Linked DNA regions of Homo sapiens. The protein of the gene in region 3 purifies or fractionates together with the protein of the main gene of each other region. This does not show direct contact. Each region holds a gene or a part of one and is shown on either strand. Other genes may lie near its edges. The genes, in order: PPM1B, ARMC8 and TLE4.

Region 1 (3,759 bases), on a different chromosome or scaffold from region 3:
AGGTAAGCCAAAAGTGTTCTAAATGTTATATAAATACAAATGAATTTCTAATGGGTATTCTTCCAATATACCAAACTTGGTTGTTTTTAAAAAATTAATTCAAAAATAAGTACAACATGCATAGATTATTCCACATCACATGCTTTATTTGGACTTAAACACTTATAATTTCATTCTAAACACTTGGTTGACATACATTTTGATGTGTGTAGTTAGGCTATACAGAATATACAAACCAAAGCTGTATGAATAATACATAGGTTTTTCAAAAGTTATGTTTCATAAAGAATACAGAGAAAGGAAAAATAGCCACACATCCAATATCTCACAACTTCTAAAAATAAAACTACAGAGATGTAAAATATAAACAAATCAAACAACACACAAATTATCATCCTTGAAAGAAAAATTACAGGCCAGCATCAGCCATTCTTTGAAGAACTAAAATTATTAAAGAAAACATAAATTTATTACAAAGCTAACTATGAGTGTACTAATAGGTAAAATAATATGAAGCAGTATAATTCTACATTAACAAGTTTTTCCATAATATAGCATAATCTCTCTAATCAAAATTTCTAATTCTATCTAGTATTAATTTAACTACTGACTTTAATTCATAATTGGTAGCCTAATTTCTGGCATACAATGTGAAATGACATATAATTTCATTAAATCCATAGTACTATAAATAGTCAATTTTACACTATCTCATAAAGGTGTATGCAAAGGCCTTTTTAAAAAACAAGGCTATCTGAATATAATAAAACTAGTTTTCCAAGATTCAAATAACAAAACAGTTATATAAATGCATACATTACACTTCCTAGGTTAAAAACCATCAAAGATCACAAAAATATTACCAAAAAGGAAAGTCATATTTTTTCACCACTCATCTTTGTCCCTGCATCTTCATTAGAGCTGTCTAATTCAGCAAGACCACTTTCTGATTCAGTATGGCTTTCCTGCATTGTCACTGGGTTTCCAGCATCACTGTTCGAAGAAGTAGCTGTGGCAGCTGGTTCAGCAGGGCTTTCTTCTCCCTCTACTTTAGCTAGCCTGTAACTAGTCAGCATCTCCTCCAGAAGTTGTCGGTAGTTTCCCCTATGATTAATTCTCATTTGCCTGAGAGCTTCCACCAATTTTCCCTGTGATCCACTTTCCTCTGCTTCATCGGAGGCCTTTTTTTAAGATTCAAGACCCCAGTGTCAGTAGACAAACTAGGATATCACATGTATTTCATAACACATTACAGCAAAATACTAATTTCTCTACCGAAAAGTAATATAGTCTAAGCATGAGAACATTTTATTAAATATCAATTCTTACCTGTATCAATTAATAAAAACTTCCAATAATAATCTCAAGTCATTTTAAGCAAATTACCATTAACTAGTTTATGTCTTATTTCACAGTCATTTAAAGTTTAATCTGAAATTTACTCAGCTTTTATAATTCAACAGCAACACAAGCATTTCCTAAAACTGACTTACTTAAACAATATTTGGCTATATGATTTAGTACAAAAGAAAATCAATGTTTAAAGCAGTAGGAAAAGGACAGAAAAGCAGGCCATCAGAACAGTTTCTTCATCATTTCTGCTAAATAAGTAGGAAATACAAAACATAAAACTATATAGATTTAAACAGATTTTTGAAAGATTTTAGAGTTTTTACGGATAAAAATTGTATTTACTTTTTGCTCTTATTTTGATAAAAACATCTCTAGATAAAAATAAATTAAGTATTCTCAGTATGAATAATAAACTACTCAATCCTTTCATATTTTAGTGAATTTTGGAAAATCTACAGGTTTCTACAATAGTAACTACTTAATACTGTACAGAACAAGCTCTAATCATCCAAGCTGATCACAGTTAAGCCGACAGACTAAAATAAAGATATCTTTACAGTATGTGCCTCTTGATATGATGCATTATAAAGTACAGTCATGTCCTGTATTCGTGCCAAAAAATGTTTAGAATGAATCTAATAATGCTAATTCCCAGTTTACAGGAAAAAAGGGAATAGAGGATCAAGTTAGAGCACACATGAGAAAACAATCATATGAATTCAGAATGCAGGACGTATTGTAAAAAACTGGCTCAGATTCTTCAAAGTCAGTTTCAAGGGGAAAAAAACAGGTGAGGGGCTTGACTGATTAAAGACTTGTTTAATGTGCTTGATTGATAAACTTGATTAGACTGGGATTCAAAATAACAATTACAATAGTCACTCTAGTGACAACTAGGGAAATTTAAACTTGATATTCAATATTATACAATTTATTTTTTTATACACCTACAGTGTACCCACAAAAATTAAAAATAAATTTAAAAAAATGAATTTTCTTAGGTATAATAATGGTATTATGGTTATACAGAAAAATGTCTTCGTTCTTTTTTTTTTTTTGGGATGGAGTTTCACTCTTGTTGCCCAGGCTGGAGGGCAATGGCATGTTCTCGGCTCACCACAACCTCCACCTCGAGGATTTAAGCGATTCTCCTGCCTCAGCCTCCCGAGTAGCTGGGATTACAGGCATGTGACACCATGCCCGGCTAATTTTGTATTTTTAGTAGAGACAGGGTTTCTCCATGTTGGTCAGGCTGGTCTCGAACTCCCAACCTCAGGTGATCTGCCTGCATCGGCCTCCCAAAGTGCTGGGATTACAGGTGTGAGCTACCGTGCCTGGCTGAAAAATATCTTCATTCTTAAGAGCTGCATGCTTAAATGTTTACAGGTAAAATATGATGTCTGCAATTTTCTCTCAAAGGGTTCAGTCAAAGAAAGAAAAAAAACAGTAGATATAAAAAGAAAAATAAAGCAACTATGGCAAAATGTTAACAGTTGTTGAATCTAGAGAGACAATATACAGCTGTTCCAACATATCATATCCCCTTTTTAAATACATTTGGAAGTTTTCATCTTAAAATATTGGGAAAATAAAATACAAAATAGGTTATTGATACAGTTGATGTGACACAAACTCTTAACCATCTTTAGAGACTATTACATATACTTTTGCAACAAAGATAACACTAATAAAGCCATATAATAAATGGCAATGTTTTATTAGAAAAATGAGAGCAGATGAATGTTATTTTTTAAAAAGTTGCCCTCATTGGCCAGGAGCAGTGACTCGTGTATGCAATTTCACCACTTTGGGAGACGGGTAGGAGGATTCCTTGAGGTCAGGAGTTCTAGGCCAGCCTGGGAAACACAATGAGACCCTATCTCTACAAAAAATGTTTAAAAGGAACACGCCCATAGTCCCAACTACTTGGGGAACTGAGGCGAGAGGTTGAGCTAAGTCGAGGAGGTTGAGGCTTCAGTGACCCATGACCATACCAATGAACACCAGTCTGAACGACAGAGTGAGACCCTCTTAAAAAAAAAAAAAAAAAAAAGGGCTTGTTAGGCTGAGGCGGGTGGATCACGAGGTCAGGAATTCAAGACCAGCCTGGCCAAGATGGTGAAACCCTATCTCTACTAAAAATACAAAAAATTAGCAGCACGCAGTGGCAAGTGCCTGCAATCCCAGCTACTCCGGGAGGCTGAGGCAGGAGAATCGCTTGAACTCGGAGGGCGGAGGTTGCAGTGACCCGAGATCGCACCACTGCACTCCAGCCTGGGTGACAAAGTGAGACTCTATCTCAAAAAAAAAAAAAAAAAGAAAAGAAAAAGAAAAAAAAAGTGCTTGTTTTCCTGCCTCAGACGGGGTGGTGGTGGGGATGGGGCGGGGAAGTATCCTCATGGCAAA
Region 2 (3,659 bases), on a different chromosome or scaffold from region 3:
AGTGGTTCCAATGGTAACTATTCTCCTTTTGACCTCTCCCTCATGCTTTTGAGTTTCAAAAAACCTCATTTGGTAGGCAGTTGTTCATTTGGCTTTTAACTTTGAAAATAAAGCAAACTATTAAGGGTATATCTTTACTCTGTCTTAAGAAGGGCCTAAAATAACCTTCACTGGTATTTGTATTAGTAATGTACTCTACTCTCTGGGTATTAAACTTATGTGTCTGCTCTTCTTTCAGTAGTGGTGTTTTTCCAGTAGAAGTGATGGGTTACATACATTTAACCAGTTGCCTTGTCTGTTTTCCTTCTGGTCATTTTTTCACACTGACACTGTATCTTACCAATACAAAGATACATGAGCAACCCTTAGCTACTGCCTCATGAACGCCCTGAGTTGACCACCCCAGGAAGGCAAATAAAATGTTTTGATGGCCATGAGAGTAAGGAAACAATTTTAAGAACATGTAGCCTATGCATATGCAAATCATTTAACTAGTACGTAGATTATCCCTTCTGTTAGTTTTTCCATTTCATTTCCATCAGAGTAAAACTGTAACAACAATAATCCTTAAAAATGACATCGTAATACCAAACTTGAGTAATAGTTTGTTTTGTCATCTTTATTTTTGATGATGGATTATCCAAAGGTTTCTGACCCGAAAAGTATAGACACTAGACCCGTAAAGAGAAATCTTCACATGTTAATAAATTTGTGATTTTCATGATATGTTAGTTCAAGTCAGTATTATATCTTAATTTATGACTAGAATGTAGTTAAGACTTTAAGAGTAGATACTTTTAGAACTTATCAAAGTGAGTATTCTGTATTGGGAAGTTCTTCCTATAATCCATCAGTGTCTGCTTTGAACAGAAGTTTTGGAACTATTAAGAATTGCCTTCAGAGCCACCCCAAATTATATATATATGTAAAATATATATATTGTCTTTTGCTTTCTGTGGAATTTTTTGTTACCTACGTTATATTACCCAACTGAATTTCTCCATCTTCACACACAGTCAGTGACAACTAAAAGTCTCATCATTGATCAAGCTATACCACTGTCAGTGTTTTCTAGCTAATAATACCAGTTAGCTCTTTAGGAAGTTTCAAAAGAGGGTCTCAGAATGTTATGAACAACACCTACATCATTGGATGAGTGAACCTTTCCAAAGTAACTTCTTTGGGAAAAGTGGTATTCATTTGGATGATTACATTAAGGCTTTTAGTTACGAGGTTATTTATATTATTGGTAGACTTTGTATAGTTACTTGGTCATAGTCAGTCATTGAAAGTATCCTGAAAATATGCTTCTGTTTTATCTTTACAGTAGTTTGGTGATCAAGTTTATAGAAGAGTTGATAATTAGTTATGCATGTTTAAAGATACCATTAATTGCTTCATGCTGATAATTTTGATAATGTTCTTGAAAAAACCCATACCCAACATAAATCTCAGATAACTGTAATAGATAATAATGGTTACCATAGTATACGGTTTGTTAAGCATTTTCACAATGGGTTCTCTGTTTCTAAAAGCTTTTTATTTTATTTATTTTTATTTATTTATTTATTTTTGAGATGTAGTCTCGCTCTGTTGCCCAGGCTAGAGTGCAGTGGCGCGATCTCGGCTCACTACAACCTCTGCCTCCTGGGTTCACACCATTCTCCCGCCTCAGCCTCCCAAGTAGCTGGGACTACAGGCGCCTGCCACCACGCCCAGCTCATTTTTTTGTATTTTTAGTAGAGACAGGGTTTTATCGTGTTAGCCAGGATGGTCTAGATCTCCTGACCTCATGATCCATCTGCCTCGGCCTCCCAAAGTGCTGGGATTACAGGCGTGAGCCACCGCGCCCGGCCTCTAAAAGCTTTTTAAATGCCAAAATTAGGCCAGCACTACTCTTAATGTTTCAGAAAATTAAGGGAACCCTCCTAAAGACATTGTTGCGATTTCATTCAGGTTATCAGCTGTAGTCTGGGGCTAGAGAAGTCCAGGTGTGCCTTCTTTTGAAGGAGAACATTTCAAAGAGCTGCTGCAAGCAAGCATTAGTGCCAGTAAAGCTACCATTTAGGAACACTGAATTTTTCGGAGTCAGAGATTCACAATGGTTTTTCATATATCAGTGTCAAATATAGTGTTCACTTTTAAATGGAAGCATATTGTGTGCATTTTAGGTCACATTGATACGAACACTGCAAAGTCTCAGTGCTATGTGAACAGAATCCAAAAATAACTGGGAAATGTAGTTAATGACTGGGAAATTCACTAAAATCTAAAAGTTGTAAACTTTTTTTTTCTTCAACTCAGTTAATGTTATTGAAAGTTGAATTTATGGACTGAGTTGGAACATATCCTTTTTTTCCCCATAGCTTGATCATGATTTAAAACATGCTCACGAACTCCGCCAGGCTGCATTCAAGCTCTATGCCTCTCTTGGAGCAAATGATGAAGACATCCGGAAGAAGGTGAGTCTGGGAGAGGGGCGTCCCCCAGTCCTGACAGCCAGCAGGCAGGGAGTGACGTCAACCTGAAAGTCGTGGTGAAGAGCACTAACAGTGACTGTTTGAATATAATAAAGCAGAGTGACTAAAGGCATAATTGAAGAATGAATGGGACCCGGATTTGGGGGGTTGTTTGTTTGTTTTTAGAACATAGAGTGGCATGGCCGTGCTGGAATGACAAATAACTGGCGTGCTTTTTTTTTGTGTCATTAATATGAATTATTATGTTGCACATTTTTGCATGTGTTCTGATAAAAATCAATTCTAGCACTGTGAAGCTTCAGACACCTTGAAAGTCCTAACATTAGAATTGTAAATGTTATTTATGGAAATACCTTCCAATGCTATTGAGAAATTCAAATCTCTATTGTATATTGTTCTTTGATATGTGGCTTAGTTTTATGTTTTGATTTTTTTTGCTACTGTGCAAGTTTAATGTGAATAAAATCTTTGTGGAATGATGATTTTATGTTTAGTGAGTGGTCATCTGAATTTTCCAGCTCCCCAGAAAATGTATGCACTGGTATAGCACCCTTATGTTACTAAAGCCTAGTCTAACACTGAACTCATGTTCTTGATGAGAATACTTCTAGATGAGGAGTATAGTGGTAAGTAAGCTCTGACTTGGCTCCTTCCACAAACCAAAAAGCTGGAACTTACCACTCAAAAACATGTATAACCTAATAAATTCTACACAAGGCTTTCAAGACCATCAGAGAGCAAAACCACATGTTCTGTCTTGAGGAGCCATAGCAGAAAGAGCAAATTAGTCATTATTTACTGAACATGATGATTTACTAAATCTCTCCATCTGCATTAGTATTTTAAGGAGCACTGTGAGAGAAATCACAAAGTATTAGAGTTTACCATGATTCAGAGAAGTTCTTCAGGCCTGTAGAAAGAGGAGTATGGAACAACCTTACATTTGTTGAAATAACTTGAAAAGGAACCATTTCTTGAAGAAACTGAAGTAATAGCAATAAGATTTGATGTGTGAGTAGCTTTGATTTAAAATCAATGCAAAAAGCACAACTAATAAATTGAATGTTTCCATGTACCTCACTTTATTTCAGTTAACAAGATACTTTGACTTGAAGTGTTTTTAGTGTATCCCTATGAAAATCATTTTTGGTACATCTAAGTTTTCACTTATAAACTGTT
Region 3 (2,868 bases):
TTAAACTCCTCTTTATACTGAATCTTCATACACCCAACCAGTAGCAGCCCAAGAAGCCTGGTGTAAAGACCTCAGTGTGTTATGCTAGAAATGCTTCCCAAATCCACATGGCTGGCAATGGTTTACATTGGCTAACTTAAAGCCCGTGTTGATGTGTCTAGTCCAATACGGTAGCCATTAGCCACATGTGGCTACTTGACACTTGAAATGTAGTTTGTGTGACTGGTAAATTAGATTTCTAGTTTTATTTAACTTTAATAAATTTAAAGAGCCACAAATGCCTAGGGTAACCATATTGAACAGCATAGCTCTAAAGCATCAAGGGTTTGAGGGACATGATAACCTTTTGGTAAGCAGTATTTTTATAAATCAAAGAGGTACTCAATAAATATTTAGCACCAACTGGTCACTGTTAACTTCTATCACCTACCTTTTCTAGCTCCTCTCAAGTAAAGACAAAACCAAAACAAAAACAGCAACAGTGAAAAAAACCCACATTACTTTAACAACAAAAAAAACCACTTTACTTTAACAACAATCTCCCTTGAAAAAACTAGGCATTTTTAATATATAGGAGTGGCACAGCCAAAGATAAAAAATAAACTAATGTCATCAAGACAAAGAATTAGAAAAATAAGCATACTAGAAGTTATTTATGTTTAATGCTTAAAAGTCTGAATTCACAAACAATCTACCATTATAGAAGTACTGGTGGTCAATACAATGCATTAGAACTATGTACAACGCACAGTTTAGTATCAAAATCTTTCTACACTGTAGAGTTTTACGAAACTGTTAATGACATCAAACACTAAGCACTTAAGACACCATTTTTTTTTTTCTGCTACCACATTAGGAACGTCAATGGACAGTCCATTTCAACTTGCAGCATCCATCCATTTCTAGTATGAAATTAAGTAATTTTCTACTTATACAATAAAGTATATCTACACGGTTCTTTTGATTTTGATCCATAGCAGCAAAGGCACTGTACATCAGCAGATCCACAGACTTAAAAGATTTTTAAAGCATTCAAACAAAAAATAATAAAAAAAGAAGTCACATATTATAGTTTAACAGCAACAACAACAACATAAAAGATAACACAATGTTTCTGGCACAATGGCACAGCCTGTGTCCATTTCAGGGACATCCAACTAAGACATGGAAAGAACCGGAGGTAAAGAAAGCAAGTCCTCATCCCAGGAGAGAGTCCATTCTTTGTGTTTTTCAGAGGGAGGTCTCTGCAAACCCTCCTCTGCTGTCCTTGTTTTGTAAAAGACTTAACTTGCACAGCAGTGGGAGTCCTCCCCATAACTGTGCAGCTCCCAAAGAGCATGCCACAAAATAACCCATAATTTCTCATAACAACAAAACTGACTAAAGATATATATATCTCCTTTTGCAAAGAAATGTGGCAAAAATATCCAGAAGGGAGTAAGTTCTCTCTTTGAGGCCAAATTTAATTTGTTCATCTGCCTATAATACAACAAAAAAAGGGAACTAAAAACATATTACAAAGACACTTGTCAACGAGTCAAAAAAAGAAAAAAAGTCCAATTACTTTTATCGAATATAATCTAAAGCTATAGATATATTGGTTAACGTTGTCTAAATAGATCCAAATGAGTATGAGTTGGCCTGTTGTGTTCTAATTGTTCAGCCAAATTTCCAAAAGTCTTTAAAAGATGTAGAAAACAAAAACAAAAAAAACCTAATAACAACACAGCAACATATTGCTTCCATGTGTAATTATACATTTCACATCTCTATACAGTCATCAGTCTACACTTAGTGACATTTTAAATCAATTATTTTAAACCTTCCTTTCCCCTCCTTTGCCAAAAAAAGGGGGGGAGGGGTATCAAATACAACGCACCTTCATTATCAATGCAGGAGCAGACAGCTTTATTTAGTCAGTCATTGTTAGAAAGCCTTCTTTAAACAAAATAAATATATTACAGATATAATACATAATTAAAGATTCTTTTCACTGTTAAGTATGCTTATTCCATGTTCTTCCAAGTAGACAGCTGAAGATTTGGTATCACAGGTTTTTAATGACTATTCACAATTCAATAGCAAGTGGGAAGTGAGGTTAAGAAAGGGGATTAAACTCCACAACTGCAATGAGTATCTGAAATCCTTGGTTTTAGATGCGGGGATGGGGGTGAACAAAAAGGATGACAGAGCAAAGTGCTACCAGGAGGAGAAGTCCAGTCTGCATGAAGATTTGTCTTTAATAAATAACTTCATAAACTGTGGCCTTCTTATCCCCAGAGCCAGTGACAATGTATTTGTCGTCCACGGAGATGTCACAGCTAAGCACCGATGAGGATTCTTTGGACTAGGAAAGAAACATATAATCAAAAATGTTAAATACTGAAAGAAAATCCCATGAGTATGGAGGACTTAGAGCAAATGCAAATGTAATGTGCTCCTTGACCAAACAGAAAGCCCAGTCAAGGAAAGGTGAAAGGTGGTCATGGACAGTACTGCTGCTTTTTTTTTTTTTTTTTTTTTTTTTTTTTTTTAATAAGACAGGGTCTCCCTCAGTCACTCAGGCTGCAGTGCAGTGGTGTGACCATGGCTCACTGTAGCCTCGACCTTCTGAGCTCAAGCAATCCTTCCACCTCAGTCTCCTGAGATGCTGGGACTACGACACTGATGTGTCCAATCACACCTAATTTTCAAACTTTTTTTGTAGAGAGAGGGTCTCACTAAGTTGCCCAGGCTGGTCTCGAACTCCTGGGCTCAAGAGATCCTCTTGCCTTGGCCTCCCAAATTATGCCTGAGATTACAGGCATGAGCCACCACGTGGCACTTTCTTAAAATGGCAGAGGTGGATCGGATCCACCCTTGGCGACA

What was found.
Region 1: the proteins of TLE4 (region 3) and PPM1B purify together in Homo sapiens (affinity purification with western blotting; one study listed by BioGRID). This does not show direct contact.
Region 2: the proteins of TLE4 (region 3) and ARMC8 purify together in Homo sapiens (affinity purification with mass spectrometry; 2 studies listed by BioGRID and IntAct, with this or other methods). This does not show direct contact.

The regions. Positions count from the first base shown.
Region 1 is NC_000002.12:44,227,835-44,231,593, reverse strand, and holds the end of PPM1B (protein phosphatase 1B), read right to left. Parts: intron 1,602-3,759; coding exon of another isoform or gene 1,593-1,601; exon of another isoform or gene 1,182-1,592; coding exon 876-1,181; 3' UTR 122-875; downstream 1-121.
Region 2 is NC_000003.12:138,242,722-138,246,380, forward strand, and holds part of ARMC8 (armadillo repeat-containing protein 8), read left to right. Parts: intron 1-2,366; coding exon 2,367-2,462; coding exon of another isoform or gene 2,463-2,528; exon of another isoform or gene 2,529-3,659. UniProt on the Homo sapiens protein: Component of the CTLH E3 ubiquitin-protein ligase complex that selectively accepts ubiquitin from UBE2H and mediates ubiquitination and subsequent proteasomal degradation of the transcription factor HBP1.
Region 3 is NC_000009.12:79,724,516-79,727,383, reverse strand, and holds the end of TLE4 (transducin-like enhancer protein 4), read right to left. Parts: intron 2,348-2,868; coding exon 2,240-2,347; 3' UTR 502-2,239; downstream 1-501. UniProt on the Homo sapiens protein: Transcriptional corepressor that binds to a number of transcription factors. Inhibits the transcriptional activation mediated by PAX5, and by CTNNB1 and TCF family members in Wnt signaling.